Linked DNA regions of Homo sapiens. The protein of the gene in region 1 purifies or fractionates together with the protein of each later gene. This does not show direct contact. Each region holds a gene or a part of one and is shown in the gene's direction. Other genes may lie near its edges.

Region 1 (3,500 bases):
TTTAAAACAATGAGATACCACCACACACCTGTTAGAATGGCCCAGATCCAGAACACCAACACCACCATTTGCTGGTGAACATGTGGAATTCTCATTCATTGCTGGTGGGCATGCAAAATGGTGTAGCCACTTTGGAAGACAGGTGAGCAGTTTCTTACAAAACTAAGCACACTCTTACCATGAGATCTGGCAATTATGTTTCTTGATATTTACCCAAAGCAGTTGAAAACATGTCCACCCAGAAACCTGCACATGAATGTTTATAGCAACTTCAGAATTGCCAAAACTTGGAAGCAACCAAGGTGTTCTTTATTTAGGTGAATGGATAAATAAACTCATACTTCTAGACAATGGGATATTATTCAGTGCTATAAAGGAATGAGCTGTCACATCATGAAAAGTCATGGAGGAGCCTGAAATTCATCTTACTAAGAGAAAGAAGCCAATCTGAAAAGACTGCATACTGTATATTTTCAACTATCTGCTGTTTTGGAAAAGGCAAAACTAAGAAGACAGTGGATTGGAGGGGAGGGAGGGATGAATAGGCAGAGCAGAGAGGATTTTTTGGGGCAGTGAAACTACTCTATAATGATGGTTACATATCATCATCTATTTGTCCAGACCCACAGAACGTACAACACCAAGAACGAACTCCAATGTAAATTATGGACTCTGGGTAATAATGATGTACCAATGTGTGTTATCAGTTGTAACAAATGTACACTCTTGTTGGGGATGTTGATAGTCGGGGAGACAAGACAGGGAACATATGCGAAATCTCTTCCTTCTGCTCAGTTTCATTGTGAACACAAAACTACTTTAAAAAGTAAAGTTTATTTTAAAAAGAGGAGGTCTTAGGACAGAACCTTAGAGAATTCTTAATATTGAGGAACTAGCCTTAGAATAGTTCTGCTCTTCCTTGTGAAAATAATTAACTTAAATATCTGCTCTGAATATAAAACTGAACATAAGCTGTTTTTGAGTAAATTTTCTGTAGGCAAATGATGAAATAATTTTTTTTTACCTGTTTTCTGATATAATGACCCTTAGCATTCATACTTTCAACAGTCTCAGCTTTGATACTCAGAAACAACATGGAGAGCCAGAGAATATAGTAATTTGTTATTTTGCTGAGGCACAAATTCAAACCACATTCACTTTAAGACTCCCGTTTGGGAGAGTAACTTAGCTCTTGAGCAAGCTTACCATTCCTTTGTGTTATCCTCTGCTCCTCATCTCTTACTTAGTGACACCTGAAGGATGTGAAAGAATTACGTATATTTGTTCATTAGTTTCATGCATATTAATTGGGAAATTCCATGTAGTATTGGTGAGTTTGAGGATTAACAAAGATTTGTATTGGGCCACATATCTTGAAAATACCAAGGATGTACTATGCCTATTGTAAATTAAATTTGGCTTTGTCTCCTAGCATTAGAATTTTTTATGACCAACACTAGGAGTTTAGTTATGATAGGGGAAAAAGGATAAATATTTGAGTACCTTGTTTATATAAGAATAACTTCTTTTTTTTCTGCTTAGGGAAGCATTCAGTGGAGATCTTAATAAGGATTGACTTTTCTTGGTAACAGAATTGATATCAGTGGTACATGACATCTATGCAGCCAGACACAAATCTGAACTCGTTGGACCCTAAATAAGTGTTTAAATATTTGTTATATTTCCCAAAATGATTGGTTTGTAAGATGGTTAATAGTAACTTATGCAAAAGTCCAGAAATTAGGTGTTCTTATTCACTGAGAAAAGTCTGCCTTAAAAATTAAACTTTTTTTTTCTGATATTAAGAGCACTATGAAAATATATAGAATAAAAAGTAGAAGCTATCTTCTGCCCACTGGGTAGAAGTCGGCTTATCCTACATTGGGTGTTAATCCTTACATTTTTCCATGCATTTCTATACATGTATGTACAGATGTACAAACATCATTTTAGGGTTTAATTTGTTTTGTTTTCCCTTAGTGGGGTAATACAATAAGTATTATTTTCCAACTAGCAGATTTTTTTTTTTTTTTTTTTTACTGCAGCATTTCTCAGAGTTTGCATTATGCCTTGTGCATTGTGAATCTCCAAAAATGGGATACATGATACTGCATTTGTCAACTTGACCATAGAAACCTCTTATCCAGGAGCCTCTTATAGAAACACTGGTTTGGGGAGTATTGATTTGCAGTTTTTGCCTAGTATCTGGGAAACAGGGTGGTGATTTTGCTTTATGATCCAGTTAATGGTGAGTCACTTTATAATATAAAATTATTTCACATTTGGCCTTTTTGTTTAGATCTGTTAGTCAAGTGTATTGGTGAAGAAACCAAGTATGAAAGCATCAGACTTCTGTTTGATGGCTTACAGCAACCAGTACTCAACAAGCAGGTAAAGCTCATTAAAGCTCGTAAACTCATGCTGGCTAGGTTTGGTGAACGACGTAGTAAGGTGTCTGGTAACTCATTAGTTGTATAAATGACACTATACTAAACCAAGGCAATATAATTTTAAACATTCAGATAGAAAAAAAGTTTTATTTGAGTTACTCTTTTTGTTTCAGTTTTTTCTAAATAAGATGAATTATTTTGATTTAAAATTAATATATAGTAATTGTAGAAAATTTGGCATAGAAAATTCATGAAATACAGTAAAAAATTAAAAATGGATAATTCCATTATTCAAGTCACATAGAATAACCAGTTAACATTTTTATGTTTATGGTTTATGTAAACTATGTATAAGCTTTATATATTCTGTTGAGATCTCAATACAGTTGTGATTTTGTGTTCTTGTTTTTCTAAAAATTCAAATATTTAACATAAAAATGAATTAATGAGGCATAATGAAAGTGTCCTCATGCAAACACATGTGTACTTATTACCTATTTTGAGAATAGAACATTATTGATACTACTGAGGCTACTTTTGTGCTTGTTTTATATTATCAGTCCCATTCCCTGCCTTCCCACTTAGAGGTAACCACAATCTTTAATTTTGTGTGTATCATTTTTATGGTTTTTGTGTTTAGTGCCTTAACATTTATTATTATTATTTTTTGGTGCTTTAGCTGACTTATGTTTTATTGGACATTGTGATACAGGAACTGTTTCCAGAGCTCAATAAGGTAACTGAAAAGCAGTAATTTTATTCATGATTTTCTTAATGGTATGCTGACATTTATTTTAATTAGGGACATAAATGTAAGAAAACCCTTGTCTCTGTTCTCTGTGGTTCTTTAAAAAATTAACCTCAGCAAATTGCCTTTTGTATTTTCTTTATTAAACATGCCCAAACAATTCTGGGGGACAGCTATTGAATAGCTTCTGCTTTGACTTCATCCCTTTTTAATTACAAGCAGATAGGGACCCTATATAGTCTTTCCAGGGGAAGAAGTGAGTGTAAGTCCTAGCACTAGAATAGGCCAAGCTCAGTGTTATCGTCTGCACCATTGTATGCTGTGTAAGTCAGAAACTAGAGTATTTTTGAAGCAAGTTTTAT
Region 2 (3,500 bases), on another chromosome or scaffold:
GACAGATCTTCTGGGGCTTAACTCAAATACTGTTGTGTCTGCACCAGTCTTTTAGTGTCTCAAAATAGATTATTAATACATCCATAAGTCTGTGGTTCTTCTCATTCTCATCTATAATCCACCACTACCAAGAGAGATTTCTGTGTCTTAAATGATTTGGTGCATATTTTGCAACATTGAGAGAAAACTGCCCCCATCTCAAGCAAGAATGGCGTTGGTTTCTTCCATTTCAAACTAATCAGCATTCTCCAGCAATGACAAAGTGCCAGAGTGTATATATGAAAGCTAAGGAAAGCACAAAACAATGGTTCAGAGATAAATTGGCTAATTTGTTTAACAGTTGGAGACTGTGCAATGTACGACTTGGAGGAGTTTGTTTGGCATAATGATTTTGTAGGTCTGTCAGCATTTTGATATATTGTGGATTAGCCAGGTGAATGATCCTTGAAACATCTCTTTCAGGTCTGGAGAAAGAGACAGAATGCCCTTAAAGTGTGAAATAACCTTATACCTGAATTACAGTTTTGTGATATAAAATAAAGCTGAGTATAAAATAAAACCAATCAAACACAGAATTTGATTGGATTTGTTATTCATTGGTATACAACAATTTTTATTCTTATGTGTGCTTTAAGGGCTGTGTTTTGCTCTTAGGGTACTCAATTTTATGTTTCCTTTTGGCATTCTTTGTGCAAAAAGAAGCATGTGGTGGCTCTCATTTAAATTTCAAAATTATTAGTTTTATCTTTAACAGATTACTGATTATACAGAAGATATAATTTATTGGAAGAACTGCCAAATACATTTTGTCCTTCTAAAAATATGGAAATTTAAATAGTAGTCTGGAAAGTTACCATATGATAATTTTTAATTGTGTGATCTAGACATGCCTTAGGTAACTGCAGAAATAGCAAATTAAATGATTAATGAGCTTATTAGTCATAGTAAACATACAGATTCCTAATTCTATGACAGTGTACATATATGAAAATAAATGATGAAAAAAGAACTATAATATTTTTAAAAATATGCTTTTATTTATATTTCACATAATGTAAAGTTCTACAAAATAAAGCTAGTAGGCAAGACCCCTCAGTGTATACCTTTAAACCCATAAATTAATTTTATATCAATAAAATAAAATACTTTCTCTAGTTTTGGAGCTTCTGTATTTCCTATAGTTTTCTGACTGTCCATTTTATCCATCTTAGAAGTATTCACATCCCTTCTATGCAGGATTTCTGCATAGTTTTAAATACTTTCATTGCCTAAGGGTTTGGGTGTGTCAGCTTTTTTTGTTTTAAAAATATTTAACACTAAAACCTTAAAATAATGAAGCTACTTATCAGACCACTGAGCCAAGATCCTGGTATTAAAAGAAAGTCTGGGTGCTTAAGATAAAGGGACAGAGTATTGGTATCCCAGTTATTTGGGAGCTTTAAGATTGGAACAAGATATCACTGTCTTGTTTTCACTTAGATCCTACTTACAAAGTGAGGGTTATTAACAGAATAAAGCCTTCCTTTAAAGCTTTATAATAATCATATTTATTAATAATGCTGTTGTGCATACTTATAGTATGCATATATTCAGCATATGTTGCATGTCTTCAGAATTACATAAAATGAAATCCCTTTCATTGCAACTTGCAAGTGAGAAAAGATCCTTAGTGGCTCTGGTGGAAGAAATAGTATTTCTTCTTCTCAGGGTGTCTCCCTGCCTTGGCCCCTCCCTGAGCCCCAGGCTTTAAAAGTGAAAATGTTTGAAACATGAAACATGTCTGTAGGAAGCATCAGCATGGCCATAAGTGCAGTGATTTTCATATATGCCTCTGCCCATTTCAAATATATTTTTGACATGAATAAATCTAACAGTATACAGAATAATTCATGTAAGACCCTAACGTGTACATGTGAAAAAGCATTTCTATATAATGTGAGGAGCACTGGCCATCAATTAGGGAAATAAAGGTCATGTAATATTGCAAATTTTCAAAATAGAGCCCTGCAAGATAACTGCAATCATACCAAAAACTATTTGAGTAAATGGATTTTTAAAGTAATTTTTGTTTAGAAGAGTTTATATTTCAGAAGCAGAAAATGTCAAATGATAGTCTTTGTAAATGGTGGTGCACCTTCTCTATGCACATCTGTCTTTTACATCAGAAAGAGCTGTGGTCATGCTAAAATTAGAGATAACTTTTTGAATGACTTGGTCAAGCTGTGTGTAAAATATTTAACCATAAGTCAAGTACAGTGTACTATGTTTAATAAAGTTACATTTAATGCATTTATTGCATATATGAATATATACATGAAGAGGCTTTATGTCTTCTGGTATTTGATTTTGAATGTTTTTTAAGTCAGTGGTGCCTTTAGGCAAGAACTTTCGAAATTAATCATTCTTTGTGTTTTCTGATTTTTCAGGTAACATGTACACTATTTAGAAACCATCATAGTTTATTCACCTTAAAAAATTGATTGTATTATTTAAATATATCACTTAGATGGGCATTTCCTATAATTAGGATATTCCAAATAGTTGCTGAAATCAATTGTGCCATTGACCAATGGATGCACTTGGTTAGCCTTAATTTTTTTAAAAAAAAAAAAAACAAAAACTTTCTTGAATATTTCAGTTTGTTCATTTTAAGTTTGTGCTGCTGGTATTTGGGAAGAAAAATCAATCAGTTAAGTGCTACCAGAAAGTGTACCAATTTTTATAAAAATTAAGAATGATATAAATTTCACAATCTAAAATTTTAATTTTGTGCAATATTTTCATTTAATGCATGTGTATTTGAGTAATTGTAAGATAAATGAATTTTTAATTTTTTGAGATGTAGCTTAAACTGTCTTCTTAATCCAACAACTTACATTCCGTTGTTGCTGCATCCTTTTATTTAAGGACTTGTTTTAAAAGTCTTTTTGTCACTCCTTGGAAAATTCTTTTATTAGTAGTAAATTTTGCTTTTAGGAGCATGGCTCCTGTATTACAAGGGAAAAAATATGAAGAGCACATTTTAGGATTATAATTGTTAAAAGATAATGTGTGCATATCATTGTACAGTAAGTGTCAACTGTGTGCCTAACTGTTCTATCAATACTTTCTTTCTTTAACAAAGAAGAAACAACAATCAGAATGTCAGTTATTTTTATTCAACTAAAAGGATTAAAAAATTTATTTGGTTTGTGTTCTGTCCATTAGAAAATACTAATAAAGTATTAACAAACATTTTTGTTGAGTTCATTTAATAGTAATGTATTTTTGTTACTTTTAAGATGCTTGCTCAGTAGTCTTATTTTTAGTATCTGTTTGTATTTTCTTTTCTTTTAGATATCAACCAATTCAAGTTCCAGGTTGATAGATGAGTGCTTGAGTGATTACTGACTTAAATGGACTGAATTTAACTTTTTCTTTTATGGGGCAAATAATTTACACCACAGTGTTAAAGAAACTTTATACTTCCTCATCGTATCAAATTATAAAGTATTTTCCCA

What was found.
Region 2: the proteins of SNX14 (region 1) and SNX13 purify together in Homo sapiens (affinity purification with mass spectrometry; one large-scale study listed by BioGRID and IntAct). This does not show direct contact.

The regions. Positions count from the first base shown.
Region 1 is NC_000006.12:85,506,859-85,510,358, reverse strand, and holds part of SNX14 (sorting nexin-14), read left to right. Parts: intron 1-1,542; coding exon of another isoform or gene 1,543-1,589; exon of another isoform or gene 1,590-2,039; intron 2,040-2,045; coding exon of another isoform or gene 2,046-2,083; exon of another isoform or gene 2,084-2,299; coding exon 2,300-2,391; intron 2,392-3,069; coding exon 3,070-3,126; intron 3,127-3,500. UniProt on the Homo sapiens protein: Plays a role in maintaining normal neuronal excitability and synaptic transmission. May be involved in several stages of intracellular trafficking. Required for autophagosome clearance, possibly by mediating the fusion of lysosomes with autophagosomes.
Region 2 is NC_000007.14:17,790,495-17,793,994, reverse strand, and holds the end of SNX13 (sorting nexin-13), read left to right. Parts: 3' UTR 1-3,234; downstream 3,235-3,500. UniProt on the Homo sapiens protein: May be involved in several stages of intracellular trafficking. May play a role in endosome homeostasis. Acts as a GAP for Galphas.